Linked DNA regions of Homo sapiens: region 2 is linked to region 1. The links come from fine-mapping of genetic effects on plasma protein levels. A gene starts in region 1. The other region holds a variant in brackets. All regions are shown on one strand. Distances are between the middles of the regions.

Region 1 (14,656 bases):
TAGAACCTCAACAGTCCAACAGTCCAAAAGGCCATATTCCTCATAAGGCTGTTACCCAGGTCAAGCCATGCTTTTTCATCTACTAGATTATGTTAAATAGAAAATAAGACATTCGAGTAGGAGGGAACAGCCTGATGCACGTGCTATTACAAATGTGTGAGCATATACACCTGAAGGTAGGATCTCAAAGGAGTCCACACAAACGTACATTTATCTAAGCTTCAGATGTTTATATTAACCTTCAATCTCAAAGCCACTTCTAATCTCAAGGCAATGTGGGTTGAAGGCAAGAAGGGATCCCTTTAAATCCCAGTGTAGGGCCAGATGTGGTGGCTCATGCCTGTAATCCCAGCACTTTAGGAGGCCGAGGCAGGCAGGTCACCTGAGCTCAGGAGTTCGAGACCAGCCTGGCCAACGTGGTGAAACCCTGTCTGTACTAAAAATATAAAATTAACGGGGTGTGGGGGCGTGTGCCTGTAATCCCAGCTACTTGGGAGGCTGAGGCAGGAGAATTGCTTGAACCCGGGAGACGGAGTTGCAGTGAGCCAAGATCCGTGCCACTGCACTCCAGACTGGGCAACAAAGGGAGACTCTGTCTCAAAAATAAATAAATAAATAAATAAATAAATAAATAAACTAATTAAATTAAATAAATATATCCCAGTGTACACAGTAATCTGGGACAAGTTAGTAACACCACCACCTTCTTGGGTTCATAACAGGACTAAAGGCGAGGACTTGCACAAGTTAGTCAATATCTGTGGGCATTAACATGGGGCTTCTCCATTTCTGAAGCACGCACCTTCAGTGTCCTTGGCTGCTGTGGGGGTACACCAGGAACTCCCAAATCCCAGGTTAGCTCCAAATATTAAAACCCAAGCAAGGCAGAGGCAGGAGGATTGCATGTGGCCAGGAGTTTGAGACCAGCCTGGACAACACAGCAAGACACCGTCTCTACAAAAAAATTGAAAAATTGGCCAAGTGTGGTGGTATGCACCTGTTGTCCCAGCTACTTGGAAGGCTGAGGTGGGAGGATCGCCTGAGCCCAGGAAGTGAAGGCTGCAGTGAGCCATGATCGCACCACTGCACTACAGCCTGAGCGACAGAGCAAGACCCTATCTCAAAAAACCCAAGTAAACTTGCTTCTTTGTGCAAAGACAAGCTGCCTTTCTTCTCACTGCGGTTTGGCAAATGCTGGGAGAGAGTGATGCCAGAGCCCGGGTGGGAGCTGCAGGATCAGTTCCTGAACACTAGTTTTTAGACAAAAGGGAGTGATTTTCTGCCCTCAAATGAGATGCCAGCTGGAGCACATCATGAGATGTGTGCTGTGTATTTGCTGGTGACTTATTTGACCCTTAGCATCACTGCCAACAGGCATTTACCTCACTTCTACTACTAAAAAAGAGGCAATCAGCCAGGCACGGTAGCTCACGCCTGTAATCCCAGCACTTTGGGAGGCCAAGGCGGGTGGATCACGAGGTCAGGAGTTCAAGACCAGCCTGGCCAAGATGGTAAAACTCCGTCTCTATTAAAAATACAAAAATTAGCCAGGAGAGGTGGTGGGCACCTGTAATACCAGCTACTCAGGAGGCTGAAGCAGGAGAATTGCTTGAACTCAGGAGGCAGAGGTTGCAGTGAGCCGAGATCGCACCACTGCACTCTAGCCTGGGCAACAGAGAGAGACTCCATCTCAACAACAACAACAAAAAAAGAGGCGATCATTTATTATTTTCCTAGACCCTACAGTTTAAAGATCTAAGTACTATATCTGTGATTTTTTATGGAATGTATTTTCCTTACATGTACATGAACAAGCATATAAATTTAAAGTTAATTATATATTCAAGTAAATCAGTAAAATTCAAGATTGCTAGCTGAATTTTTTTTTTTGTCTTATTGACTTATTTTTTTTGAGACCAAGTCTCATGCTGTTGCCCAGGCTAGAGTGCAGTGTCGTGATCTGGGCTCACTGCAACCTCCACCTCTCAGGTTCAAGCGATTCTCGTGCCTCAGCCTCCCAATTAGCTGGGACTACAGGCATGAGCCACCATGCCTAGCTAATTTTTGTACTTTTAGTAGAGATGGGGTATTTCACCATGTTGGCCAGGCTGGTCTCAAACTCCTGACTTCAGGTGATCCACCCACCTCGGCCTCCCAAAGTGCTGGGATTATAGGCGTGAGCCACCTGCCCAGTCTGCTAGCTTAATTATTTTTTTTCAAGATGGAGTCTTGCTTTGTCTCCCTGGCTAGAGTGCAATGGCGCAATCTCGGCTCACTGCAACCTCCACCTTCTGGGTTCAAGCAATTCTCCTGCTTCAGCCTCACAAGTAGCGGGATTACAGGTGCATGCCATCATGCCCAGCTAATTTTTTGTATTTTTAGTAGAGGTGGGGCTTCACCATGTTGGCCAGGCTGGTCTTGAACTCCTGACCTCATGATCCACCTGCCTCAGCATCCCAAAGTGCTGGGATTACAGGTGTGAGCCACTGCACCCAGACCAACTTAATTCTTAAGATAAAATGTATTATAGTATTATGGCTGGGCACAGTGGCTCACACCGAGATCGCGCCACTGCACTCCAGCCTAGGCAATAGAGCCAGACTCCATCTAAAAAAAAAAAAAAAAAAAAAAGAGTATTACAGTATTATGTAAACAACCACTCTAGTGCTATAAGTGTGACCTAAGTACTTAGCACTTTAACAAATTGATGTAAGTACTTAGTACTTTAACAAATTAGATCTGAAGTTGAAACACAGTTGCTGGTTTTCAGAAAACCGTTCTGGATTTAAGGGTTTCTGGATAGGCGACCTCAGAACATGGCACCTTATGTCCATTTTCACGCTGCTGATAAAGACATATCCAAGAGTGGGTAACTTATTATTATTATTATTTTAGACAGAGTTTCACTCTTGTTGCCCAGGCTGGAGTGCAATGGCACCATCTCAGCTCACTGCAACCTCTGCCTCCTAGGTTCAAGTGATTCTCCTGCCTCAGCCTCCCAAAGTAGCTGGGATTACAGGCGCCCGCCACCATGCCCAGCTAATTTCTTTTTGGTATTTTTAGTTGAGACGGGGTTTCACCATGTTGGCCAGGCTGGTCTTGAACTCCTGACCTCAGTTGATCCACCCGCCTCAGCCTCCCAAAGTGCTGGGATTACAGGCGTGAGCCACCGAGCCTGGCAAGAGTGGGTAACTTATAAAGAAAAAGAGGTTTAACTGCCGCAGTTCCACGTGGCTGGGGAAGCCTCAAAATCATGGCAGAAGGCAAAAGGCACGTCTTACATGGTGGCAGGCAAGAGAGAATGAGAGCCAAATGAAAGGGGAAACCCCTTGTAAAACCATCAAATCTCATGAGACATTCACTACCACCAGAACAGTGTGGGGAAAACTACCCCATGATTCAATTACCTCTCCTCAGGTCCCTCCCACAACACATGAGAATTATGGGAACTACAACTCCCATGAGATTTGGGTGGGGACACAGCCAAACCATATCACTTGGCATTTGAGGAAATAACAGTAGCAGGAAGGTCCCCCTCAGACCTTCTTTTGCCCCTCTTCCCTGAAGCAGGCCATAAAAGAATTCTCTGCTCTTCCTCTGAAGAAGATCATAAGACTCTCAAGTGAGAGGTGCTTTTCCCATACCCAGAGGAACACTCTTATCTCTTGGGATATGAAAGAGCAAAATAAATGCCCCTTTATCAACTAAGATGGGCCCTAAGGTTAAGAAAACAAAAATTGGCCGGTGCGGTGCCTCACGCCTGTAATCCCAGCACTTTGGGAGGCCAAGGTGGGCAGATCACGAGGGCAGATGTTCGAGACCAGCCTGGCCAACATGGTGAAACCCCGTTTCTACTAAAAAATACAAAAATTAGCTGGGCGTGGTGGCGGGCGCCTATAGTCCCAGCTACTCGGAGAGGCTGAGGCAGGAAAATGGCGTGAACCCGGTAGGCGGAGCTTGCAGTGAGCCGAGATCGTACTACTGCACTCCAGCCTGGGCAACAGAGCGAGACTCCGTCTCAAAAAAAAAAAAAAAAAAGAAAGAAAGAAAGAAAGAAAAAAAGAAAACAAAAATTGCCCACGGGTCAAGGGTTCAGGGATTGGCCGGCACGGCAACTTCCCAGATTCCTAAAGCTACAAGAAAAACTACACTCGTGGCAGGGCGCGTGGCTCACACCTGTAATCCCAGCACTTTGGGAGGCCAAGGCGGGTGGATCACCTGAGGTCAGGAGTTGGACACCAGCCTGACCAATATAGTGAAACCCCTTCTCTACTAAAAGTACAAAATTAGCCGGACGTGGTGGCTGGCGCACGCGTGTAATCCCAGCTACTTGGAAGGCTGTGGCAGGAGAATCGCTTGAACCGAGGAGGCGGAGGTTGCAGTGAGTTGAGAGTCCGCGCACCGTTGGCACCGCGATGAGGGCGGGAAGCACAGCGCGGGGCCCCCGGGAGCAAGAACGCCGCGGGCACCCAGCCCTCGTGGGAGGCGGCGGTCGGGGCACGCCCCGGGCCGAACCAGGCTCTGCACTCCCGCGGGTGCCCGGACCTGAAGGGTCGTCCGCTGGCTCCAGGATTCTGCATCCCCGACCCGCTCCGGGTGCGCCGAGGCTGCTGGGACTTCGCTGCGGGAGCGCGCCCGGGGCCCCGGGGCCTGCACGGAAGGCGGCTGCGGGGAGGGTGGCCGGGCAGAGGCTTCGGTCCCGGGCGCCCCCTCCCCGGCCGGACCCCCCTCCCCGGCCGGACCCCGAGTCTGCAGTCTCCGCAGGTGTGCCGCGTGCGGGTAGAGACGGACGTGGGGCTGGACGCGGGCACTCAGGGACGGACGGGTGGGGGACCGACGGCCGGGGGAACAGAGGGCGTGGAGAGACGGCCGTGGGGACAGGGGGGCGGGTGGGCGCGGGAAAGGACGGACTGGGGGACTGAAGGACTGGGGTCCCGCGCCCGATGGACGGAGGCGCCAAGGACCAGCGGACTCGGGGGCGACTGGGCGACGGTGGGCGCAGCAGGGCGGAGGCACGGACAGAGGACGTACCTACAGGCCCGGCCCGGCCGCCTTCGCCTGATCCCGAGACCCACGGCGAGCCTCGCGCCGCCGCCGCCTCCCCTCCGCCTTACCTAGGGCCAGCATGTAGCCCTCGAAGTTGTCGCTGCTGAGCAGGGTCCAAGTACCGCTGAGGTCGGCGGGCATGGTCGGGGATCGCGGGACAAACCCGGCGGGCGGCCGGAGGCTCGGGCCGGGACCTATAAACCAGGCGGGGCGGGGCAGGGGGGTGGGGCCGCGCGCGGGAGGAGCAGGTGGGGCCGCGTGGGTCCCACTCACCCCTAGAAGCCGCTGCGCTCCCGGCCGCCTCAGCCCGGTGCTCCTGGCTCTGCCCACCGCGCGGCAGCTTCCCCCTTTCCTTGGGGCTTCCTCTCCTACTGCTTTCTCATGTCCCAGACTGTTTCGGGCCACATTTTCTTCCCTGCTTATATGTTAATGACCCAGGGATGATCTTCAAACTCATGGCATTGAATATTGTCAGCTTCAATAACAATATACCTCTCAACGTAACTCTCATGGTCTCAATAAATAGGAGTTTATTTTTCTTAACAAGGAGTCCTGAGAGAAGTGATTGCTGGTGATGATTCGCACCTAGGAATCACAGTGATTCGCACCTCGGTAACGCCGCAGCTTCGTCTCTGTGACTCTGGTGGCCTTTTATTCCTGCTTGTTACCTCCTGGTCATGAGCTGGCAGCTGGGTTCCCAGCCAGGACATCCACATTCAAGGTAGGGAAGAGGGAAAGCACCAAAGGTCAGTATCCCTGCAGCACAAACCTCCCCATCTCCTATAAGTCTGGATAGTTGGAAAAAAGAAAAGAAATTACCCAGCAGGTTTCTGTGTACATTTCATTAGCCAAAACTGTATCAATGCCACTTCTAACTGCAAGGGGGCCTGGGGATTCTAGTCTGCAGCATTTAGCCTCAGAGCAGAGAAAAGCAAAGGAGAAGGGGTGGGAATATGGGCTAACCTACAACATTAGCCACAAACACCGCCTAGATATGCTGGCTCCAAGACTGACTTATTGATTTTATTTTTATTTTTTTTCTTTTGAGACAGAGTCTCACTCTTTCTTTTTTCTTTTTTTTTTTTTTTTTGAGACGGAGTCTCGCTCTGTGCCCAGGCTGGAGTGCAGTGGAGAGATCTCGGCTCACTGCAAGCTCCGCCTCCGGGGTTCACGCCATTCTCCTGCCTCAGCCTCCCGAGTAGCTGGGACTACAGGCGCCCGCCAACACGCCCGGCTAACTTTTTATATTTTTATTAGAGACGGGGTTTCACCGTGTTAGCCAGGATGGTCTCGATCTCATGACCTTGTGATCCGCCCGCCTTGGCCTCCCAAAGTGCTGGGATTACAGGCCTGAGCCACTGCGCCCGGCAGAGAGGGAGTCTCACTCTATCGCCCCGGGCTGGAGGGCAGTGGTTCCATCTCGGCTCACTGCAACCTCCGCCTCCCAGGTTCAAGTGATTCTCCTGCCTCAGCCTCCCGAGTAGCTGGGATCACAGGTGCCCATCACCATGCCCAACTAATTTTTTGTATTTTTAGTGGAGATGGGGGTTTCATCATGTTGGCTAGGCTGGTCTTGAGCTCCTGACCTCGTGATTCGCCTGCCTCAGCCTCCCAAAGTGCTGGGATTATAGGTGTGAGCCACCGCACCCGCGGTATTTATTTTTTCATTTATTCTTTTTATTTTATTTTATTCTATTTTATTTTTTGAGACAGACTCTCACTCTGTCGCCTAGGCTGGAGTGCAATGGTGCAATCTTGGCTCACTGCAACCTCCGCCTCTTGGGTTCAAGCAACTCTCCTGCCTCAGCCTCCTGAGTAGCTGGGATTACAGGTACCTGCCACCATGCCTGGCTAATTTTTATATATTTTAGAAGAGGTGGAGTTTCACCATGTTGGCCAGGTAGGTCTCGAACTCCCAACCTTAAAAGATCCACCCACCTAAGCTTCCCAAAGTGCTGGAATTACAGGCATGAGCCACCACACCCAGACTGACTATTTTTTGAGATAGAGTCTTGCTCTGTTGCCTAGGCTGGAGTGCAGTGGTATGATCATGGTTCACTGTAGCCTCAACCTCCTGAGTTCAAGTGATCTTCCTGCCTCAGCCTTCTAAGTAGCTACAACTACAGGCATGTGCCACCATGCCTGACTAATTTTTTTAATTTTTTATAGAGATGGAGTATCCCTGTGTTGCCGGCGGTTGGTCTCAAACTCCTAGGCTCAAGCAACCCTCCAACCTTGGCCTCCCAAAGTGCTGGGATTACAGGTGTAAGCCACTGTGTCCAGCTCAAGATTTATATGTCAATTTATGACCTCTCCCATGAGTTCCAGACTCAAATATAATAAAAGCTAGCAGTCCGTGCATGGTAGCTCACACCTGTAATCCCAGCACTTTGGGAGACCGAGGTGGGTGGATCACCTGAGGTCAGGAGTTTGAGACCAGCCTGGTCAACATGGTGAAACCCCATCTCTACTAAAAATACAAAAAATTGGACAGGCGCAGTGGCTCAAGCCTGTAATCCCAGCACTTTGGGAGGCTGAGGCGGGCAGATCACGAGGTCAGGAGATCAAGACCTTCCTGGCTAACATGGTGAAACCCTGTCTCTACTAAAAATACAAAAAAATTAGCCGGGCGTGGTGGCGGGCACCTGTAGTCCCAGCTACTCGGGAGGCTGAGGCAGGAGAATGCGTGAACCCAGGAGGCGGAGCTTGCAGTGAGCCGAGATCGCGCCATTGCACTCCAGCCTGGGGGACAGAGCAAGACTCCGTCTCAAAAAAAAAAAAAAATACAAAAAATACAAAAAATTAGCCAGGCATGGTGGCGGGCACCTGTAATCCCAGCTACGTGGGAGGCTGAGGCAGGAGAATCGCTTGAACCCAGGAGGCAGAGGTTGCAGTGAGCCAAGACCGTGCCATTGCACTCCAGCCTGGGCAACACGAGCCAAACTCTGTCTCAAAAATAATAAAATAAAAAATAAAAGCTAACATTTGGCTGGGGACAGTGGCTCACGTTCGTAATCCCAGCACTTTGGGAGGCTGAGATGGGTGGATTGCCTGAGGTCAGGAGTTTGAGACAAGCCTGGCTAACATGGTGAAACCCCGTCTCTACTAAAAAAATACAAAAGTTAGTCAGGTGTGGTGGCACACGTCTGTAGTCTCAGCTCCTGGAGAGGCTGAGGCAGGAGAATCACTTGAACCCGGGAGGCAGAGGTTGCAGTGAGCAGAGATTGTACCATTGCACTCCAGCCTGGGAGACGGAGTGATTCTGTTGCAAAAAAAAAAAAAAAAAAAAAAAAAAAAAGCTAACATTTGTTGAGTGCTATGTGTATTATTATTTGTTGCAAAATCCTACTTCTCCAATAGTTATTTTATTAACTCCCTTTGACAGAGCTAAAAACTGAGGCATAGAGAGGTTAACTAACTTGCCCGAGGTCATATAGTTGGCAGAGTCTGGATTCAAACCCAGGTAACCTGCCTGCACGTTCAGTGCCACCTCTCGCCTCCTACTTGACGTCTCCACTTGGCTATCTTAAAGGCATCTGAAACTTGACGCAGCTAAGCTAGAAAGTGTAAGAACAAAATTTTTTCCAGCTCTCCTTATCTCCATACATTCCATTAGGCCCCTGGATGCTCAAGCTAAGAATCCAGTAGATTTGTGAATTTCCATCTTCTCTGCTGGCCAAAATCCAGTCCCTCAGCAAGTCCTCTTGGTTCTACCATCTTAACCCAAGTCCCCATCATCTCTTGCCAGGACCACTTATAAAAATCTTTCATCTGGACCTGCTGCTTCCCTTCTGAGTCCCTCAAAACAATTCTCCATACGCAGCCCCGGCAAGCTTTTAAGGAATGTAATTCAGATCTTCTCACTCCTTGCTTACAGCCCTTCAGTATTGTCCTGTCTTTCTTTTTTCTTTTCTTTTTTTTTTTGAGATGGGGTGTTGTTCTGTTGCCCAGGCTGGAGTGCAGTGGCACAGTCTTGGCTCACTGCAACCTCCACCTCCTGAATTCAAGCAATTCTGTCTCAGCCTCCCGAGTAGCTGGGACTACAAGCGCATGCCACTACACCCGGCCAATTTTTATATTTTTAGTAGTGATGAGGTTTCACCGTATCGGTCAGGCTGATCTCGAACTCCTGACCTCAGGTGATCCACCCACCTAGGCCTCCTGAAGTGCTGGAATTACAGGTGCGAGCCACCGCTCCTGGCCTGTCCTGTTTTTCTTAAAAGGAAATTTGCACTCTCTCTCATGGTTAGGTTCACAAAGTCCTTCCTGGTTTGGCTCCTGGCTACTCCTCCACCAGCAGTACATCCTGTCTCCCCCAACTCAGTTCCTCTAATCACATCACACCCTTTCCTTCAGAGTCTTGGTATTTGGTGTCTCCTCTTTCTGAGATGTTTTTCCTCCTAGTTTTTGCCTGGTTAGCTCCTTTGGCTTCCAGCTCAAAAGTCACTATTAGGGGTACAGTCTTTTCTTTTCTTTTTCTTCTTTTTTGAGACCAAGTCTCGCTTTGTTGCCCAGGCTGGAGTGCATTGGTGCGATCTCCACTCACTGCAAGCTCCGCCTCCTGGGTTCACACCATTCTCCTGCCTCAGCCTCCTGAGTAGCTGGGACTACAGGCACCCGCCACCACACCCAGCTAATTTTTTGTATTTTTTAGTAGAGATGGGGTTTCACTGTGTTAGCCAGGAAGGTCTCGATCTCCTGACCTTGTGATCCACCCACCTCGGCCTCCCAAAGTGCTGGGATTACAGGCGTGAGCCACCACGCCCGGCCATAGGGGTACAGTCTTTTCTAGTCATGGTCTCCATGGAGAGGAATTGTCCCTAAACGCCCCTGGCCTCTGCTCATCCTCTTAGGATTGGAACAACTAGGACTGAAGGAGTGCCTGGGACATGGAACTCTTGCTGCTAACATTGGAAAAGCCCCTGGTAAACTGGGATGAATGCTTGCTCTCGGGGCAACAGCCACTGAACCGTTTTCGTCAACTAGGTAGAGGTAATCTATAAAAAAATTATAATCCTAGGCTGGGCGTGGTGGCACATGCCTGTAATCCCAGCATTTTGGGGCCGAGGAGGGAGGATCATTTGAGCCCAGGATTTTGAGATCAGCCTGGGCAAGATGGCAATGTCCTGTCTCTATAAAAAATAAAAAAACTAGCTGGGTGTGGTGGTATGCACCTGTAGTCCCAGCTACTCGGGAGACTGAGGTGGGACGATCGCTTGAACCTGGGAGGTCGAGGCTGCAGTCAGCCGTGATGGAACCATTGCACTCCAGCCTGAATGACAGACTGAGACCGTCTCAAAAAAAAAAAAAAATCTAAACCTAAAGTATTTATTTACTTACTTATTTATTTAGAGACAGAGTCTCGCTTTGTCACCCAGGCTGGAGTGGGGTGGCTCAACCTCTGCCTCCCAGGTTTAAGAAATTCTCCTGCCTCAGCCTCTAGAGTAGCTGGGATTACAGGCGTGAGGCACTGTGCTCAGCCCTTTTGTTGCTTTTTTTTTTCGTCTTATTTTTCAGTTGGTTTAGAATGTGGACAGAAAAGTACTTGGATATCTTCAAGAACTTGAGAGCCATCTTCTCAGAACAGCCTTCCTATATGCTCCTAATACACACTTACTCCACATCACATCTCTGCTTACGTCCTTTATCATTATTATAATCCATAATTATCTTTTTTCTTTTTTATTGACTGCCTTTTCCATGAAGCTTTCCAGGGCAGAGCCCATGTTGATTTCATTCACCACTCCTGTATCTCCAGGGTCTAGCACAGTGCCTGGTAAGTACTCAATAAATGTTTGTTGACTGACTGACTGACTGGCTATGACCTTTTCCAAGGGAGAAATGCCATTTTCATTGAGAAGCCAGAGTGACATCACCTTGCCCATAATGAGCTAGCTGTTGATTCTCATAACTGTAAGACATAGATTCCAGGCTTGGTGCGGTGGCTCACGCCTGTAATCCCAGCACTTTGGGAGGCTGAGTTAGGAAGGTCACTTGAGGTCAAGAGTTCAAGACCAGCCTGGCCAACAGGGTGAAATCCCATCTCTACTAAAAACAAAAATTAGCCAGGCTTGTAATCCCAGCTACTGGGGAGGCTGAGGCAAGAGAATTGCTTGAACCCGGGAGGCAGAAGTTGCAGTGAGCTGAGATTGCACCATTGCACTCCAGCCTGGGTGAAGAGGCAAGACTTTGTCTAAAAAAAAAAAAAAAAAAATTCAGCTGACTAAGAGAACAGGATATGCAGAAATCTTACTTACTTCCTATTCTTAAAATCTTATTGTTCTAAAACTTGGCCTGAAAATGAAAATCACAGAAAAAACTAATAATAGTTTTAACCTTCGTGCTGGTTGGTATGGCTTCTGGCCAGCTTGAGCAAGGGTCATCTATTATGGACAGGATTTAATTTCAGCTGAAGTAGACATAGACTCCACTTGCCATAGGATAAGGAGTAATTTTTTTTTTCTTTACAATTCTAATATCTTCCTAGACAGGACTCAAGGTTATCTCTGGAAGGAGAAGCATAATTTATTTGGTCAAATTTGAGCCCTTTCTTTCCTTCTGTTTGGTGCTGGCAAAGTAAACCAGAAGATTACAGCCAAGACTGAGGTCCTAAACCTGTGTACAAGCACTGTTCTTCCTAGACAGCAATGGATGGGGATTGCTGAGGGCCACTTTATCATGGAACCTCTCATCTGTTGCTTGATGGAGTCTGATGCTGGTTCAGCAAAGACTGGCATGGACCTTGTGGTGGACTCCACACCATCCATACCTCCCCTCCCTACTGCAAGAATGCAATGCCAATAGGCAGTTTGGTCTGGCTCCTGAAGGTAGACCTGGATTAGTATCAGGCTAAACCAATCCCGGAAACCCTATTAGCTTAGCCAGTGATCAGCTTTAGGGAGAAGCAGGTTTAAATGACTGAATCAGCCAGTGAGATGCGATGAGGAGTTTGAAAGGGCTGTTGGAAAAGATGTTTCTTTGATTTTAACAGAGCCATGGGGAGCCATGAGGAGTCACTCCTGAACATGAACTAGGAAGCCTGGCTACTGGTGACCCTCCTATAACTCAAGGGCACTAGATTTAAGACACTGTGACTGGAAGTGTAGAGGGATGGAAAGAACCCGGGTCCCCGATGACAGTGTTGACTCACAGCACCTACAAACCTACACACCTTCCATTCTGCCCTATGTCTGTACTTCTGAGTATAGATGTCCGTGTTTAGATCACTTTGAGTTGAGCTTCCTGCTACTTGCAATGAAAAAAAATTCTGATACATTTTGAAGCAGGGTATTTCCCTGACCCCTTCATTGGCAGGAACTGGAATGCAGGGGCGCTGGAACTAGCCAGCCACTTTGGCGCTGGCAGGGGCCATTCCACTCACTTGGACCTGCTGTGTTCCACCCCTTATGGGAGGCGGAGCATGCAGGTGAGCGGGTGCAGGAGCTGGGGCAAGTGCTTTTGGGCACCTGAAGGAGCAAAACTTTGTGTGGGCCCCGCAGCAGCATCTGGTGAGGGTGCCTGCAACCCCTGAAGCCCCAGAAGGGGTGTTACAATGCCCTTTTAGCTTTGCTGTGGACAGCTTAAGTGTTAACAGCTCAGTGGAGGGTCAGTGTGACAGGCTTTTGTACCCGCACTTGTGGTACCCAAGTTCTTGTCCAGTGTCCAGGAGGAATGAGGTAGCACAAATGAATTGAAGATGGTAAATGCATGGAAATTTATTGCCAATGAAAGTGACTCTCAGTGGGAAGAGGAGCTGAAAGGAGGATGGAGCAAGAAGGTAATCTTCCCCTGAAGTCCAGCCGTCCCTGGCTGGACTCCTCTTCAAAGCTACACCATGAAGCTGTCCCTCTGAAGTCAAGCCACTTATTTCTGCCGTCCAACCGTAGTCTCCAATATCCAGCTGCTTCTCCACTCTCTGCTGGCTGAGCTTGGTTTTTTTTTTTAGACTGAGTTTTGCTCTATCACCTAGGCTGGAGTGTAGTGGCGCGATCTTGGCTCAGTGCAACCTCCGCCTCCTGGGTTGAAGTGATTCTCGTGCCTCAGCCTCCTGAGTAGCTGGGATTACAGGCGCCCGCCACCATGCCTGGCTAATTTTTGTATTTTTAGTACAGGTGGGGTTTCGCCATGTTGGCCAGGCTGGTCTTGAACTCCTGACCTCAAGTGATCTGCCCGCCCTGGCCTCCAAAAGTGCTAGGGTTACAGGCTACTGTGCCCAGCTGAGCCTGGGGTTTTCATGGGCACAGGATGGGGGGTGGGCCATGGGTAGTTATGGAAAAGGCAACTTTCAAGAGGGCAAACAGGGATGTAAATGCTCACTTTGGGCCATAGTATCAGGCTTTTCAGCTCCAGGTGGGGAGCCCTCATTGGGGACCCACCCTCTTCTGCCCAGAATTTCTCTGCCTCCTTTCCTTAGCAATATCATAAATAAAATCAAGGTACTTTTGGCTGGGCACAGAGGCTCATGTTTGTAATTCCAGCACTTGGAGGGGCAGAAGTGGGAGAATCACTTGAGGCCAGGAGTTAGAGACCAGCATGACAAAACCCCATCTCTACTAAGAATACAAAAATTAGCTGGGTGTGGTGGCACACGCCTGTGATCCCAGCTACTCAGAAGGCTGAGGCACGAGAATCACTTGAACCTGCGACCATCTCAAAAAAAAAAAAATCAAGGTACCCTTTTTTTTTTTTTTTTTTTTGAGATGGAGTCTCGCTCTGTCACCCAGGCTGGAGTGCAGTGGCGCGATCTTGGCTCACTGTAACCTCTGCCTCCCCAGGTTCAAGCAATTCTCCTGCCTCAGATTCCTGAGTAGCTAGGACCACAAGTGCCTGCCACCATGCCTGGCTAATATTTTTGTACTTTTATTAGAGACGGGGTTTCACCATGTTGGCCAGGCTGGTGTCGAACTCCTGACCTTAGGTGATCCAAATGCCTTGGCCTCCCAAAGTGCTGGGATTACAGGCATGATTCATCACACCCAGCCAAGGTACCCTTTCTTCTTAAGCAGCTTTCTTATGATTATTTATCCATTTGAGAGCAAAATTATGGTTCAGTTTCGAACATGCTTAAGTTGCTGAAGATATAAATGTTAAATAAAATACTACTTTGGTTGGGTGTGATAGCTCACACCTGTAATCCCCACACTTTGGGAGGCCAAGGCAGGTGGATCATTTGAGGTCAGTTTGAGATCAGCCGGGCCAACATGGAGAAACCCTGTCTCTATTAAAAATACAAAAGTTAGCTGGGCACGGTGGTGTGCGCTTATAATCCCAGCTACTCGGGAAGCTGAGGCAGGAGAATTTCTTGAACCTGAGAGGTGGAGGTTGCAGTGAGCTGAGATCGTGCCACTGCAATCCAGCCTGGGTGACAGAACAAGACTCTGTCTCAAAAAAAACAACAACAACTAAAAAAACCATACTTCATGCTAGACCAGCTTATGAAGTGGGAAATAAGTAAGTAAATAAAAATTTTGAAAATCACTTTATGAATACTATTGTCTCAACAAAAGTGTGGCTGGAGACTTGGGTCTTCTGCTTTGGTGACATTGATACTTTTAGCTGCACTATTTCATTTTTTTTGAAACAGGGTCTCAGCTACACAGGCTGGAGTGCA
Region 2 (16,473 bases), 16 kb before region 1:
GGGCCAGGTGCGGTGGCTCACGCCTGTAATCCCAGCACTTTGGGAGGCCGAGGCGGGCAGATCACGAGGTCAGGAGATTGAGACCATCCTGGCTAACATAGTGAAACACTGTCTCTACTAAAAATACAAAAAATTAGCCGGGCGTGGTGGCGGGTGCCTGTAGTCCCAGCTACTCGGGAGGCTGAGGCAGGAGAATGGCATGAACCTGGGAGGCAGAGGTTGCAGTGAGCCGAGATCACGCCACTGTACTCCAGCCTGGGTGACAGAGCAAGACTCCATCAAAAAAAAAAAAAAAAAAAAAGAGTTTAAGAAAACACACAACCAAGAAAAAAATGAAACAACAAAAGCAGAGAGTTATTGAAAATGAAAGTACATTTCACCAGGTGGGAGCGGGCCCCAGCAGCCACTCAAGGGCCCTGGATACAGAATTTTCTCCAGTCCAAATACCCACTAGAGGTTTCCCATTGGCCACTGGGTGTTCACCCATGTAAATGAGGTGAAGTAGTGGCCTGTAATCAGTCCGATTGGTTGCGGAAAGCAGAGGTGGGCGGATGATGAGGTCAAGAGATGGAGACCATCCTGGCCAACATGGTAAAACCCCGTCTCTACTAAAAATACAAAAATTAGCTGGGCGTGGTGGGTGCTAATGCTAATGCATTATAATTAGTGTATGATGAGCAGTGAGGAAGACCAGAGGCCACTCTCATCACCATCTTGGTTTTGGTGGGTTTTCCTGGCTTCTTTACCACAACCTGTTTTATTAGCAAGGTCTTTGTGACCTGTGTCTTGTGCTGTCCTCCTATCTCATCCTGTGACTAAGAATGCCTTAACCTTCTGGGAATGCAGCCCAGTAAGTGTGGGGGAATCACCTGAACGCAGGAGGTGGAGGTTGCAGCAAGCCGAGATGGTGCCACTGCACTCCAGCCTGGGCAACAGAGAGAGACTCTGTCTCAAAAAAAAAAAAAGGCAATTAATTAATTAATTAGAGGTACTTACAATTTCCCATCTGCCACAGAAAAGGTAGGGGTTTGCAAAGGGGTAGCCTCTGGTCCTTTTGTTACTTAGGCTTGGAAAGTTAGGATTTTCTTTTCAATTTAGTTCTAGGAAGTCAGCCCAAAACAGCCTTAGGTTCCCTGCCTCCAGACCCTGGTCTCCTGCCTCAAACATATCCACGCACTGCAAGGGTGGTGCACCTGCAGAGGGCAAGGAAGCTCCGCAGCCCCCCACTAAACCTTGTCCCATGCATCTCCTCCATTTGGCTGTTCCTGAGTTGTATTCTTTTTTTTCCTTTTCTTATTTATTATTTTTTTTTTTGAGACGGAGTCTCGCTGTGTCGCCAGGCTGGAGTGCAGTGGCGTGATCTAGGCTCACTGCAACCTCCACCTCCTGGGTTCAAGCAATTCTCCTGCCTCAGCCTCCTGAGTAGCTGGGACTACAGGCGCCCACCACCATGTCCAGCTAATTTTTGTATTTTTAGTAGAGACGGGGTTTCACCATGTTGGCCAGGATGGTCTGGATCTCTTGACCTTCTGATCCACCCGCCTCAGCCTCCCAAAGGGCTGAGATTACAGGTGTGAGCCACCGCTCCTGGCCAGAGGAAGAAATTCTTACCAGCCAAGTTTCTGGTCTCTCTCTCTCTGTATATGTTGTGTAAACGGTAAATGCCACTATTTGTCTTCTCTGCGAGGGTCTGATTAGTAGAAAAAAAGGATTTGTCAGACCAGTCTTAGGCTGTAGCAAATCTGGTGTACTTTATGCTAAGAATTTGTCTTTCTTTGTTGTTCTGTAATGAAGAGGGGAGTATCAGGGGATAGAACGTGGGTTTAGGATGCCTATAAGCCAAGTTTTCAAGCCAGCCCATCAGGCTGGTCATTTACAAATGTTGCTATGGGTCCCTGAAACCAATGCCAAATGACATTTCTCTGCCTTGTTTTGTGTCCATAAGAGCTTAACCTTGTGGCCATGTGGGGATACTTTATCTTGGTTTCTGCCATCTAGAGGACAGGAATTTTGGGGTTCATGTCATAGTTAGCCCTAAAAATTATCTTGAGCAGGCCGGTCGCGGTGGCTCACACCTGTAATCCCAGCACTTTGGAAGGCCGAGGCGGGTGGGTCATGAGGTCAGCAGATCAAGACCATCCTGGCTAATATGGTGAAACCCTATCTCTACTAAAAATACAAAAAAATTGGCCAGGCGTGGTGGTGGGTGCCTGTAGTCCCAGCTACTCGGGAGGCTGAGGCAGGAGAATGGCGTGAACCCGGGAGGCGGAGCTTGCAGTGAGCCAAGATCACGCCACTGCACTCCAGCCTGGGCAACACAGCAAGACTCTGTCTCAAAAAAAAAAAATTATCTTGAGCAGTTAAGAGCCTTTGAAATCTTGAATTTGGCTAGACTTCTTCTGGGAATAGCAATAGAAACTGCCCAGGGCTGGGTGCGGTGGCTCATCCCTGTAATCCCAGCACTTTGGGAGGCCAAGGTGGGTGGATCACAAGGTCAAGAGATCGAGACCATCCTGGCCAACCTGGTGAAACCCATCTCTACTAAAAATACAAAAATTAGCTGGGCGTGGTGTCACACACCTGTAGTCCCAGCTACTCAGGAGGCTGAGGCAGGAGAATCACTTGAACCCAGGAGGCAGAGGTTGCAGTGATCCGAGTCTGTGCCACTGCACTCCAGCCTGGCAACAGAGTGAGACTCCGTCAAAAAAAAGAAAAAAAAAAGAAGGAAACTGCCCAATGCTGTGTAGCTCAGTAGCTAAGGCTTTGTCCTTTGACAAGGGTGATCTGGGTTGAATTCTTGGCTTCTGGAATGATTCCTTTCTGGTTTGTTATTTGTGTAACTTTGCCATTATTAAGGTTATTTTTCCCCCCATAGATAGCTTCTGATTTCCTGTCTTGGATTTTCTTTTCTCTAAGCTACCCTTGGGGAGATTCTAAATGTTGTTTAAAAAAAAAAAAAAAGAGGAACTGCTGGCCAGGCACGGTGGCTTATGCCTGTAATCCCAACACTTTGGGAGGCCAAGGTGGGTGGATCACCTGAGGTCAGGAGTTCGAGACCAGCCTGGCCAACATGGTGAAACCCCATCTCTACTAAAAATACAAAAATTAGCTGAGTGTGGTGGCACATGCCTATAATCCCAGCTACTTGGGAAGATGAGGCAGGAGAATTGCTTGAAGCCAGGAGCCAGAGGTTTCAGTGAGCCGAGATGGAGCCACTGCACTCTAGCCTGGGTGACAGAGCAGGACTCTGTCTCAAAAAAAAAGAAAAGAAAAGAAAAGAAAAGAAACAAAATCACCATCCCAGACCCCTGTCAATATCACCATCTGCCCATCCCTCAAAGTCATCTGCCCCCCACCCCCAGAGCTCTGGTGGCTGTTCAGGTTGCTTGTTTTGGCCAGCTTCCTCACTAGCCTTGAAGGCAGGACTGACAGCTTGTTCACTGGTGTGTCTCTCATGTGCCTAGAAGACTTTCAAATATTTTTTTAAATGCTGGGATTTCCTAAATCGGAAAGGAAAAACTTCAGAGTCATTTGGACAGGTTTATTGAAGCTGAGCAGTTTCCCCATAATCTAGATGACTTCAGGTTACACGCTGTGTGGCTCTCTCCAGCCACGAGTCCTCGTCGCCAAATGGGATAGATAAACGTCTGTTCAGTCTGCAATATAATTTGGCATAAAGCTGCAGCCACAAGTGGGCTCTGCTGCTGGATGTGGATCAGGCTCTCTGGAATGTCTGTTTGCACACTTGACCTTCACAGAACATTTCCTAGGGCGTAAGGAGGAAGGGAAAAAGAAGGATCAGTTTGCATGTGGTCTGTTTTTACTCTCAACACTTATTTTTTATTGTGTTTTAACCCTTTTCTGGAACATGTTTTTTTCTTTTATGAGATGGGGTCTCACTCTGTCGTCCTGGCTAAGTACAGTGGTGAGATCTCGGCTCACTGTAACCTCTGCCTCCCAGGCTCAAGCGATCCTCCCACCTCAGCCCCCAAAGTAGCTGGGACACTGCAGGCACGTGCCATCATGCCCGGCTAATTTTTGTGTTTTTTGTAGGGACAGGGTTGCCACTGCCTAGGCTGGTCTTTTTTTTTTTTTTTTTGAGATGGAGTCTCACTCTGTAGCCCAGGCTGGAGTGCAGTGGTGCAATCTTGGCTCACTGCAACCTCTGCCTTTAAGCGGAATTGCCTTCAAGCAATTCTTCTGCCTCGGCCTCCTGAGTAGCTAGGATTACAGGTGTGTGCCACCATGCTCTGCTAATTTTTGTATTTTTAGTAGCGACGGGGTTTCACCATGTTGGCCAGGCTGTTCTTGAACTCCTGACCTCATGATCTGCCCGCCTCAGCCTCCCAAAGTGCTGGGATTACAAGCATGAGCTACTGCGCCTGACCCCTAGGCTGGTCTTGAACTCCTAGCCTCAAATGATTTTCCTGCCTTGCCCTCCGAAAGTGCTAGGATTATAGTTATAAGCCACCACACCTGGCCTACTCTCAACACTTCTGACACCAAAGGTGTGGGTTTTTAAACGCCTGACACCAGTTGTGTGATGTCTTTTCCAGTCCCACTTCTCCAACTCTCTGACACCAACCAAGTGTCCAGTAAGCCAATTTAATTTGGGCACTAACTACCCAGAGTTAGCACAGACTGCATAGGTTAAGGATGCAGTCTCACGAGACTCCCCCCAGCTTCAGACACCTGTCGCAAATTTGGGACCTCCCATATTTCTGACTGACCAGCTACAAATCAGGTTTTCCCACAACCCCTCCTCGGGCTTGATAATTTGCTAGAAGGGCTCACAAAACTCAGAAAGTCCCTTTACTTACTATTACCAGTTTATTATAAAATAAACAACTCAGAAACAGCCTGATGGGGCCGGGCGCACATGCCTGTAATCCCAGCACTTTGAGTGGCCGAGGCGGGCAGATCGCCTGAGATCAGGAGTTCTAGATCAGCCTGGCCAACATGGCAAAACCCTGTCTGTACTAAAAATACAAAAATTAGCCGGGTGTGGTGGTGCATGCCTGTAATCCCACCTACTCAGGACACTTGAGACAGGAGAATTGCTTGAACCCAAGAGGCGGAGGTTGCAGTGAGCCAAGATTGCGCCACTGCACTCCAGCCTGGGCAACAGAGCAAGACTCCATCTCAAAAAAAAAAAAAGAAAAAAGAAAGAAAAGAAAAGAAAAGAAACAGCCTGATGGAAGAGACGCATAGGGCAAAGTAGGAAGGGGGAGCACACAGCCCTCCCAGCACCTCAATGTATTCACCACACACATGAATGTTCACCGTTCAACATGGAAGCTCTCTAAACCCCGTGGTTTAGTTTTTAGTGGATGTTTCAGCACATAGGCATGACTGATTAAGTCAATGGCTATTTGTGATTAGTTCAATCTCCAGCCCCTCTTCCCTCAGGGATGAGGCTGAAAGTTCCAACCCTCTAATCATGCCTTCGATTTTCTGGTGACCATCCCCCATCCTGAAGCTATCTAAGGACCCTCAGTAGACAGTCATGTCGTTAACACACAAAAGATCTTTTTTTTTATTTGGAGACAAGGCCTTACTCCTTTTTTATTTGGAGACAGGGTCTTACTCCTTCGCCCAGGCTGGAATGCAGTGGTGCAGTCATGGCTCACCTTAGCCTCAACTTCCTGGGCCTAAGTAATCCTCCCACCTCAGCCACCCAAGTAGCTGGGACTACAGGCACCCATCACCATGCCCAGCTAATTTTTTTTAATTTTTTGCGACGGAGTCTTGCTCTTGTTGCCCGGGCTGGAGTGCAATGGCGCGATCTCGGCTCACTGCAACCTCCACCTCCTGGGTTCAAGTGATTATCCTGCCTCAGCCTCCTGAGTAGCTGGGACTACAGGTGCCCGCCACCACACCCGGCTAATTTTTGTATTTTTTAGTAGAGACAGCATTTCACCATGTTAGCCAGGCTAGTTTCCAACTCCTAACGTCAGATGATCCACCTGCCCCGACCTTCCAAAATTCTGGGATTACAGGTATGAGCCACTGCCCCCAGCCAATTTTTTGTAGAGACAGAGTCACACTATGCTGCCCAGGCTGGTATTAAACTCCTGGACTCCAGTGATCCTCTTGCCGTGTCCTCCCAAAGTGCTGGGATTACGGAAGTGAACCACCACACCCAGCAACCAAATATTTTTTAATATATCATGGTGGCTGGGCGCGGTGGCTCATGCCTGTAATCCCAGCACTTTGGGAGGCTGAGGGGGGTGGATCACCTGAGGTCAGGAATTTGAGACCAGCCTGACCAGCATGGTGAAACCCTGTCTGTACTAAAAATATAAAAATTAGCTGGGCATGGTAGCGGGCGCCTGTAATCCCAGCTACTTGGGAGGCTGAGGCAGGAGAATCACTTGAACCCAGGAGGAGGAGGTTACAGTGAGCTGAGATCAAGCTACTGCACTCCAGGATGGGCGACAGAGTGAGACTCTGTCTGAAAAAAAAAAAAAAAATCATGGTAAGTAAGAAGCATTCCATGAGTATCCTTAGAACAAAAGTACTTCTGTGCCCTGCATGGGCAGATTTCCAGGGTATGCTAGAGAAGGATGTACACATTTGGTATTTCTCTTTTTTTTTTTTTTTTTTTTGAGACAGTTTCACTCTTGTCATCCAGGCTGGAGTGCCGTGGCGCGATCTTGGCTCTTGGCTCACTGCAACCTCCTCCTCCCAGGTTCAAGTGATTCTCCTGCCTCAGCCTCCCGAGTAGCTGGGATTACAAGTGCCTGCCACCACACCAGGCTAATTTTTGTATTTTTAATAGAGACGGGGTTTCGCCATGCTGGCCAGGCTGGTCTCGAACTCCTGACCTCAGGTGATCCACCTGCCTCGGCCTCTCAAAAGTGCTGGGATTACAGGTGTGAGCCACCATGCCCAGCCTTCCTTTTCTTTTTTTTTTTTTTTAAAGACAGGCTAGTCCTACGTTCCCCAGGCTTGACTCAAACTCCTGGGCTCAAGCAATCTTCCCGCTTTGGCCTATCCAGTAACTGGAACTACAGGCAAGTACCACCACACCCAGCTGTTGTGCATAATTTGAACATTACCTCTTACAAACCAACTAATCTAAATCCTCAAACATATGTATATATTCTTTGAAATTCCATATTACGTATTTGCGAAGGCAAGTTTCTTACTTTGTTTTTTTTTTTGGAGACAGAGTCTTGCTGTATCCCCCAGGCTGGAGTGCAGTGGCATGATCTTGGCTCACTGCAACCTCTGCCTCCCGGGTTCAAGCGATTCTCATGCCTCAGCCTCCTGAGTAGCTGGGATTACAGGTGCCTGCCACAGCCCGGCTAATTTTTTTTTTTTTTTTTTTTTTGAGATGGAGTTTCACTCTTGTTGCCCAGGCTGGAGTGCAATGGTGCAATCTCGGCTCACCGTAACCTCCTCCTCCCAGGTTCAAGTGATTCTCCTGCCTCAGCCTCCTGAGTAGCTGGCATTAGAGGCATGCGCCACCACTCTCAGCTGATTTTTTTTTTAAATATTTTTTAGTAGAGACGGGAGTTTCTCCATGTTGGTCAGGCTGGTCTCAAACTCCCGACCTCAAGTGATCCACCCACCTTGGCCTCCCAAAGTGCTGGGATTACAGGCATGAGCCACTGCGCCCGGCTCCGCCCAGCTAATTTTTGTATTTATAGTAGAGATGGGGTTTCATCATGTTGGCCAGGCTGGTCTCGAACTCCTGACCTCAGGTGATCCGCCTGCCTCAGCTTCCCAAAGTGCTGGGATTACAGGCGTGAACCCGTAATCCCATGCCTGACCTCTTACTTTTTTATCGTCAGAAGAGTGTGAGATTTGTCCATCTAGAATCAAAATATCTTCAAGGCCTTGGTATTCAAAGACTACCCAGACCCAACTTTAAGGACAGTGCTCTAGTTTTGTTCTCATGGGTCTCACCTAGATTTCACACATACAGTGAGGCAAAAAAGCACAGAGCTGAGAGCACACATTCTTGTCAGACCTGTATTTGAATCTTCACCCTACAGTGTGAAAATACGTAATTCACAATCAAAGCTGATGAAACTTTAAATTATTTTGAGTCTTAAAGGAATGTGATTGTGGGACCTGAGTCATGTGAAAGGCCGCTGTAACCTAGACAGCTATAACCTTAATTTCTCTGGTTATAGATTAGCCTTTTTCTTTACCTACACTGTTTTGTAAAAAACTAAAGGGCACCAGAGAAGACTTCCCTCTACTGTTGATCTTAATTACAGACTCACTTCCCTGTTTCTTCTCTCTTTTTTTTTCCCAAAGCAGGTGAACCTCTTCCTTCTCTAATACAAAGACAGATGACTATCACGTTGTCTAAGATGGAATGTTAAATATACTCTTAAGATGACAGCAAGAATGAGGGGGAAGAAAAATAAAATAAAGAATGTTAAATATATTCTTTAAACTGGAAAGAAAAAGGAAAAAACTGAGTGGTAACTAATCAAATTCCTGTAACTCATAAAACAGCTTTGTATAGAAAATGTTGTAATCCTGCGAAATTTCTTTGTTTTCTGTCTGTCGGGTGGCTCACGCTTGTAATCCCAGCACTTTGGGAGGCCAAGGCGGGCAGATCACCTGAGGTCAGGAATTCGAGACCAGCCTGGCCAACATGGCAAAACCATGTCTCTACTAAAAATGCAAAAATTAGCTGGGCATGGCCGGGCATGCTGGCTTACACCTATAATCCCAGCACTTTGGGAGGCCGAGGTGGGCGGATCACCTGAGGTCGGGAGTTCAAGCCCAGCCTGACCAACATGGAGAAACCCCGTCTCTACTGAAAATACAAAATTAGCCAGGCGTGGTGGTGCATGCCTGTAATTCCAGCTACTTGGGAAGGCTGAGGCAGGAAAATCGTTGAACCCGGGAGGTGGAGGTTGTGGTGAGCCGAGATCGCACCATTGTACTCTAGCCTGGGCAACAAGAGCGAAACTCCGTCTCAAAAAAAAAAAAAAAAAATTAGCTGGGCATGGTGGCGGGTGCCTGTAATCCCAGCTACTTGGGAGGCTGAGGCAGGAGAATCCCTTGAACCCAGGAGGTGGAGGTTGCAGGGGGCCGAGATTGCGCCACTGCACTCAAGCCTGGATGACAGAGGGAGACTCTGTCTCAAAAACACAAACAAAAACAGGCCAGGCACAGTGGCTCACGCCTGTAATCCCAGAACTTTGGGAGGCAGAGGCGGGTGGATCACCTGAGGTCAGGGGTTTGAGACCAGCCTGGCCAATATGGTGAAACCCTGTCTCTACTCAAAATACAAAAATTACCCAGGTGTCGTGGCATGCACCTGTAGTCTCAGCTACTTGGGAGGCTGAGACAGGAGAATTGCTTGAACCCAGAAGGCAGAGTTTGCAGCGAGCTGAGATCATGCCACTGCACTCCAGCCTGGGCAACAGAGCAAGACTCCATCTCAAAAACAAAACAAAACAAAACAGGCTGTAAAATAATAGTTGTCAGCACATGGCCTCTAGGGAATGTTTTGGAGTGATTGACTTGTCTGAAACTGGATAATGGGAATGGTTGTACACCTGTATACATTTACTAGAAATTATCAAACTGTACACTTAAAACAGGTGCATTTTTTGGTACATAAAGTATACCTCAATAAAGCCATTAAAGAAAAACACCTCAAGTCCAACAGCTTAAAAGTAAAAGAAGAAAAAGAAAAAGAAAGGAAAAGAAAAACTCCAAGAATTACATTCCAAGAAATTAAATTTTTATTACAAGCGGCCACGCCTGTAATCCCAACACTTTGGGAGGCCCAGGTGGGCTGATCACTTGAGGTCAGGAGTTCGAGACCAGCCTGGCCAATATGGTAAAATCCCGTTTCTGCTAAAAATACAAAAACTAGCTGGGTGTGGTGGTGCATGCCTGTAGTCCCAGCTACTCGGGAGGCTGAGGTGGGAGGATCGCTTGAACCCAGGAGGCAGAGGTTGCAGTGAGCTGAGATCACACCACTGCACTCCAGCGTGGGTGACACTGGGTGACAGAGGGAGAGACTCCATCTCAAAAAAAAAAAAAAAATAAGACATTAACTTTTCAGCTTGGGTGTACTGACCCCATTTCTTTGGAGTCTGTGTTTCCTGGGTGGCCATTCTCATCTTCATGCCTGAATAAACCCTTATTTTGTTTTATTTTTTTTTGAAACGGCCTCTGTCACCAGGCCGTAGGGCAGTGGTGCGATCTTGGCTCACTGCAACCTCCGACTAACTGGTTCTAGCAATTCTCCTGCCTCAGCCTCCCAAGTAGCTGGGATTACAGACATGTGCCACCATGCCCAGCTAATTTTTGTATTTTTAGTAGAGACGGGGTTTCACCATGTTGGCCAGGATGATCTTGATCTCCTGACCTCGTGATCCGCCCACGTCAGCCTCCCAAAGTGCTGGGATTACAGGCGTGAGCCACCTCGCCCAGTCTGAATAAACCCTTTTAAACTGGATTCTGATGCTTCTGACAGCAGCCTTGGGGAATTTCAAAATCCCAATTTATTTGTGAATGGGAAAAATGGCGTCCTTTTCACAGGGTTGTGAAGATTAGATGAGATAATGCACTCAAAGGATTGAGCACAGTAATTGGGCCCAAAATAATCACTCCAAAGATGTGAGCTACTATATCTATCTATGCATATCTATGTATACATAAAGTAGCTATTACATATAATAGGTAAGAATTGTTCCATGAGTATTTGCATGTTATCTTCCTGCCTCTGTCGGAATATTCGGCTGTTTCATTTAATATAAGATGAGAGTGAGTATAGGCATGCGCCACTATGCCCGGCTAATTTTTGTATTTTCAGTAGAGATGGGCCAGGTGTGGTGGTGGCTCATGCCTGTAATCCCAGCACTTTGGGAGGCCGAGGCGGGTGGATCATGAGGTCAAGAGATCGAGACCATCCTGGCCAACATGGTGAAACCCCGTCTCCACTAAAAATACAAAAATTAGCTGGGTGTGGTGGTGCGTGCCTGTAGTCCCAGCTACTCGGGAGGCTGAGGCAGGAGAATCGCTTGGACCCAGGAGGTGGAGGTTGCAGTGAGCCGAGATCGCGCCACTGCACTCCAGCCTGGTGACACAGCGATACTCCATCTCAAAAAAAAAAAAAAAATAGTAGAGATGGGGTTTCACCATGTTGGCCAGGCTAGTCTCCTGACCTCAAGTGATACACCCACCTCGGCCTCCTAAAATGCTGGGATTACAGGTGTGAGCCACCACGCTTGGCCTGATGTTTCCTTTAATACTGTATCATCTCATTAAGAACAAAATGTGGTGGATACCAGGTGGAGTTTGTCTCCTT[C/T]GATCCAATGGGTCCAGCCTCTGTTCTTCTTTTCTCCCTTCTGGATACAGGTGAGCCTGTCATTGTCCCAGATAACCAAACTCTGCATGAAGAGAGGAGAAAATGTTAGCTTGTCCTGGCAGGATCCTCAAGTGTTACGAAGTAGAATGCCAAGTTACCCTTGCAAAATCAACAGCCTACTTACTGCTTTTTTTTTTTTTTGAGATGGAGTCCCACTCTGTCACCCAGGCTGGAGTGCAGTGGCACGATCTTGGCTTACTGCAACCAACCTCCACCTCCCGGGTTCAAGTGATTCTCCTGCCTCAGCCTCCTAAGTAGCTGGGATTACAGGCTCCTGCCAGCACGCCCCCCTACTTTTTGAATTTTTTTCTGTAGAGACAGGGTTTTGCCGTGTTGCCCAGGCTGGTCTCAAACTACTGACCTCAGGTGGTCCGCCTGCGTTGGCCTCCCAAAGTGTTAGGATTACAAGCGTAATCCACCGCACCTGGCATTTCTTTACATTTTACCTTGCATTTTCTGTTGTCCAGGCCTCTGTTATCTTCATCAAATTCTTCTCCAACTTTAAATTTCACAAAGTAGTTCCTTAGGCTGCTGTTCGTGTGGATGGTAAAAGAATCCCCATTCTGCTCAATCACTTTCTGTGGCTTCAGCAACTTGGCTATTTTACGAGTGGCAAAGTCAATACCTTAAAAATAATTTTTAAAAATATTTGAACATTCGCTTGAGATACAAAAGTGAAGAATTTGGTAGCTGTTCTCAAAATCACCACATGTAATTGTTAGCATTTCCTGTACGACTTCTATGTTGTTTGCTGCCAAAATCAGATCTACAAGGAATCGTCTTGGCAAACTGCCAACCACAGCCTGATTAAAAAGTTTGCAAATGCCAGGTGCAGTAATTCCAGCACTTTGGGACACAGAAGACAGGAGGATTGTTTGAGCTTAGGAGTTTGAGACCAGCCTGGGCAACATAGCAAGACCCTGTCTCTATAAAAAAATAAAAACTGTAGGCCAGGTGCAGTGGCTCACACCTGTAATCCCAGCACTTTTGGGAGGCTGAGGAGGGCGGATCACCTGAGGTCAGGAGTTTGAGACCAGCCTGATCAACATGTAGAAACCCCATCTCTACTAAAAATACAAAATTAGCCGGGCATGGTGGCACATACCTGTAATCCCAGCTACTTTGGAGGCTGAAGTAGGAGAATTGCTTGAACCCAGGAGGCGGAGGTTGCAGTGAGCCAAGATCACACCACTGCACTCCAGCCTGAGCAACAGAGCGAGACTCCATCTCAAAAAAAAAGAAAGAAAAAGAAAACCAAAGGGACAGGGCTTAGGCCCCCCAACCCAGCCTCAGTCATAACTCTGCCTTTTTCTGCCTTATGTATTTACACTTTGAATTAAGAGAGCATTTGAACAGTTTCTCAACAAGAATGAAAACAAAACTCAAAAACCACTGGATTCATGTATATACCTCTCTCTCTCTCTCTCTCTATATATATATATACACACACACACACACACACACACACGTATATACTTTTTTTTTTCTTTTTTTTTTTCCGAGACACAGTCTCACTCTGTCGCCCAGGTTGGGGAGAGCAGTGGCACGATTTCAGCTCACTGCAACCTCCACTCCCGGGTTCAAGCAATTCTCTTGCCTCAGTCTCCTGAGTAACTGGAATTACAGGCTTGCATCACCACACCCAGCTATATACTACTATGTATTTATAATTTTTTTCTTTTTTTGAGACAGGATCTCATTCTGTCACCCAGGCTGAAGTGCAGTGGTGCAATCATGGCTCACTGTAGCCTCAACCTTTCAGGCTCAAGTGATTCTCCTATCTCAGCCTCTCGAATAGCTGGGACTACAGGCACATGCCACCATGCCTGGAAATGTTTTAAATATTTTTTTGTAGAGATCAAGTCTCACTATGTTGCCCAGGTTGGTCTCGAACTCTTGGGCTCAAGCAATCCTCTCACCTCAGCCTCCCAAAGTGCTGGGATTACAGACATGAGCCACCCTGCTCGGCTAGAATTCTTAAATAAGCTTTAAAGAAGAGTTCCACAGGGAAACATGGAATGCTAAGAAGATGAAGATCAGGGTTTGGAATCCCAGTTCCACTTACTGCCTTTGAGCATATTATGTAGCTAGAAATAAACACCACTATTTTAAATAATGGCCAGGTGACGTCTCAGCGGGGAGCTGAAAGAAGTAAAGAATCAAGCCACACAGATTTCTGGGAAAATAGTTTAAGGCAGAAATCCAGGGAGCCCTGGGACTCTGAGGAAGGGTGTGCCAGTGTGTTTCGGGAACTCTGAGGAGCCTAGTGTATCTGCCGCAGAATCGGGGAGAGGGAGGAGGAAGGAGAGGAGTTAGAGATGAGACGTGATTCTGCCAGCCGTGGTGGCTCATGCCTGTAATCCCAGCACTTTGGGAGGCAGAGGCAGGTGGATCACCTGAGGTCAGGAGTTCAAAACCAGCCTGGGCAACATGGCAAAACCCCATCTCTACTGAAAAACAAAAATTAGCTGGGCATGGTGGTGCACCCCTGTAATCCCAGCTACTCGGGAGACTGTGGCAGGAGAATTGCTTGAACCCAGGAGGTGGAGGCTGCAGTGAGCCGAGATCGTGCGACTGCACTCCAGCCTGGGCAACAGAGCAAGACTCCGTCTCAAAAAAAAAAAAACCCAAACAACAACAACCAAAAATAAAACAATAGTATAAATGTCCTCATCCTAAGAAAAAATTTTTGTAGCCAGGCACAGTGGCTCATACCTGTAATCCCAACACTTCTGGAGGCCAAGGTGGGAGGATCACTTGAGCCCAGGAGTTCAAGACCAGCCTGGACAACATAGCAAGACCCCATTTCTATAAAAAAATAAAAACAGCTGAGGCTGGGCATGGTGGCTCACACCTGGGTCGGGCTGAGGCAGGAGAATCAGTTGAACCCAGGAGGCGGAGGTTGCAGTGAGCTGAGGTCGAGCCACTGCACTGTAGCCTGGGGACGGAGTAAAACTCCATCTCAAAAACAAACAAATGAACAAACAAACAAATATCTCAAAAAAACAGCTGGGCATAGTGGTACATGCCTGTAGTCTCAGCTGCAAATAAAAAAGCTTGTGTGTGTGTGTTTAAATCTAGAACTCCAGTTTTTAGTTTGAGATGCAATATGATCCAGGCTTTACTGGTTTTCAACAATATTTAAATATTTAAGTATTGAGACCAAAACCTTAAAATCACTTCCTATTATTATTATTTTTTTGAGACAGGGTCTCATTCTGTTGCCCAGGCTGGACTGCAGTGGTGCAATCTCGGCTCACTGCAGCCTTTGCTTCCCAGGCTCGAGAGATCTTCCCACCTCAGCCTCCCAAGTAGCTGGGGCTACAGGCATGTGCCACCACACCTGGCTAATTTTTGAATTTTTCTTTGGTAGAGATGAAGTTTCACCATGTTACTCAGGCTCATTTCCTATTATTAATATGACCAAGCCAAACTTACTGCTGACTTTCCTTAAACCCTATTATGTAAGCAAATCAAAACCCAATAACTTTAGACTAACAATGAGTTTAGAGTTACGCTTTTAAAATCTGTGAGGCGCCGGGCACGGTTGCTCATGCCTGTAATCCCAGCACTTCGGGAGGCCGAGGCGGGCAGACCAACGCGACCAGCCTGACCAATATGGAGAAACCCCGTCTCTACTAAAAATACAAAATTAGCCGGGCATGGTGGCGCATGCCTGTAATCCCAGCTACTCCAGAGGCTGAGGCAGGAGAGTCGCTTGAACCTGGGAGGCAGAGGTTGAGGTGAGTTGAGATTGCACCATTGCACTCCAGCCTGGGCAACAAGAGGGAAACTCCATCTCAAAATCAATCAATCCATCAATCTGGCTGGGCGCAGTGGCTCATGCCTTAATCCCAGCACTTTGGGAGGCAGAGGTGGGCGATCACCTGAGGTCGGGAGTTGGAGACCAGCCTGACCAATATGGAGAAACCCCGTCTCTACTAAAAATACAAAATTAGCTGGGCGTGGTGGGGCATGCCTGCAATCCCAGCTACTCAGGAGGCTGAAGCAGGAGAATTGTTTGAACCGGGGAGACGGAAGTTGCGGTGAGCCGAGATCCCGCCATTGCACTCCAGCCTGGGCAACAAGAGCAAAACTCCATCTAAAAAAAAAAAAAAAAAAAAAAAAATTGTGAGGCAGGCCAGGCGTGGTAGTTCACACCTGTAATCCTAACACTTTGGGAGGCTGAGGAGGGCAGATCACCTGAGGTCAGGAGTTCGAGACCAGCCTGGCCAACATGGCAAAACCCCATCTCTACTAAAAATACAAGAATTAGTCAGGCGTGGTGGGGGGTGCCTGTAATCCCAGCTACTCGGGAGGCTTAGGCAGGAGAATCTCTTGAACCCGGGAGGTGGAGGTTGCAGCAAGCTGAAATCTCGCTACTGCACTCCAGCCTAGGTGACAGAGCAAGAATCCATCTCAAAAAATAAATAAATAAAATAAAATATGTGAGGCAATTTGTTGTTAGCAAATTTACAATTTGCACTACTCATGTAGGGCAGGTGAGCCCCAGAGCGGGGATTAGCCTGCAGAGGTTCTTGGCTTTGCCCAGGAAAGAATTCAAGGGCAAGCCAGAGGGAGAAGAAAACAGCTTTATTGAAGAAGCAGTGTCACAGCTCTGTGACTGCTCCCGCAGAAAAGAGCTACCCCATAGGCAGAAAGTAGCAGCTCAGGGCAGTTTTGTAGTCATATTTATACCCACTTCTAGTTACATGCAGAGTAAGGGGTGGTTTTTTTGTTTTTGTTTGTTTGTTTGTTTGTTTATTCAGACAGAGTTTTGCTCTTGTCACCCAGGCTGGAGTGCAATGGCAGCACGATCTTGGCTCACTGCAACCTCTGCCTCCGGATTCAAATGATTCTCCTGCCTCAGTCTCCTGAGTAGCTGAGACTACAGGTGCCCACCACCACGCCCAGCTAATTTTTGTATTTTTGGTAGAGATGGGTTTCACCATGTTGGCCAGGCTGGTCTCGAACTCCTGACCTCAGGTGATCCACCCACCTCAGCCTCCCAAAGTGCTGGGATTACAGGCGTGAGCCACCATGCCCGGCTAACGGGTGGTTTATGCAGACATTTCTAGGGAAGGGGTAGTAACTTTTGGGTCCTCTGGTCATTGCCATGG

Alleles and levels. Alleles are on the strand shown, and positions count from the first base shown. The strength of an association depends on the size of the effect and on how common the allele is.
As copies of C replace T in region 2, the plasma level of the protein whose gene starts at base 5,218 in region 1 goes up (moderate association).

The links. PIP is the chance, under the fine-mapping model, that this variant and not a neighbour inherited with it causes the effect. Protein levels are from antibody-based Olink assays in UK Biobank. Linkage for the fine-mapping came from a reference panel and not from the study's own genotypes, which makes the PIPs less certain.
Region 2: its variant is fine-mapped to the plasma level of the RBP7 protein (UK Biobank, PIP above 0.99). The variant lies in the coding sequence of RBP7. If it changes the protein, the assay may bind it differently, which can mimic a change of level.

The regions. Positions count from the first base shown.
Region 1 is chr1:9,987,790-10,002,445 of GRCh38, reverse strand. RBP7 (retinol binding protein 7) reads right to left here and starts at 5,218. Exons shown (of 4, transcript NM_052960.3): 1 at 5,115-5,218. The coding sequence starts at 5,187. It overlaps LOC124903840 (basic salivary proline-rich protein 2-like), which reads left to right and starts at 4,357. Exons shown (of 2, transcript XM_047436754.1): 1 at 4,357-4,764; 2 at 5,594-5,727. The coding sequence starts at 4,416. The coding sequence ends at 5,727. It also overlaps a transcript of NMNAT1 not described here. RefSeq lists silencers at 3,269-3,469, 10,881-11,175.
Region 2 is chr1:10,003,075-10,019,547 of GRCh38, reverse strand. RBP7 (retinol binding protein 7) reads right to left here. Exons shown (of 4, transcript NM_052960.3): 2 at 11,800-11,978; 3 at 11,274-11,375; 4 at 3,527-3,766. The coding sequence ends at 3,716. Among named protein-coding and RNA genes, the nearest start is that of RBP7, 14 kb to the right of the region's middle. RefSeq lists a silencer at 12,051-12,251. The variant C/T (reference allele first, on the strand shown) is at 11,294.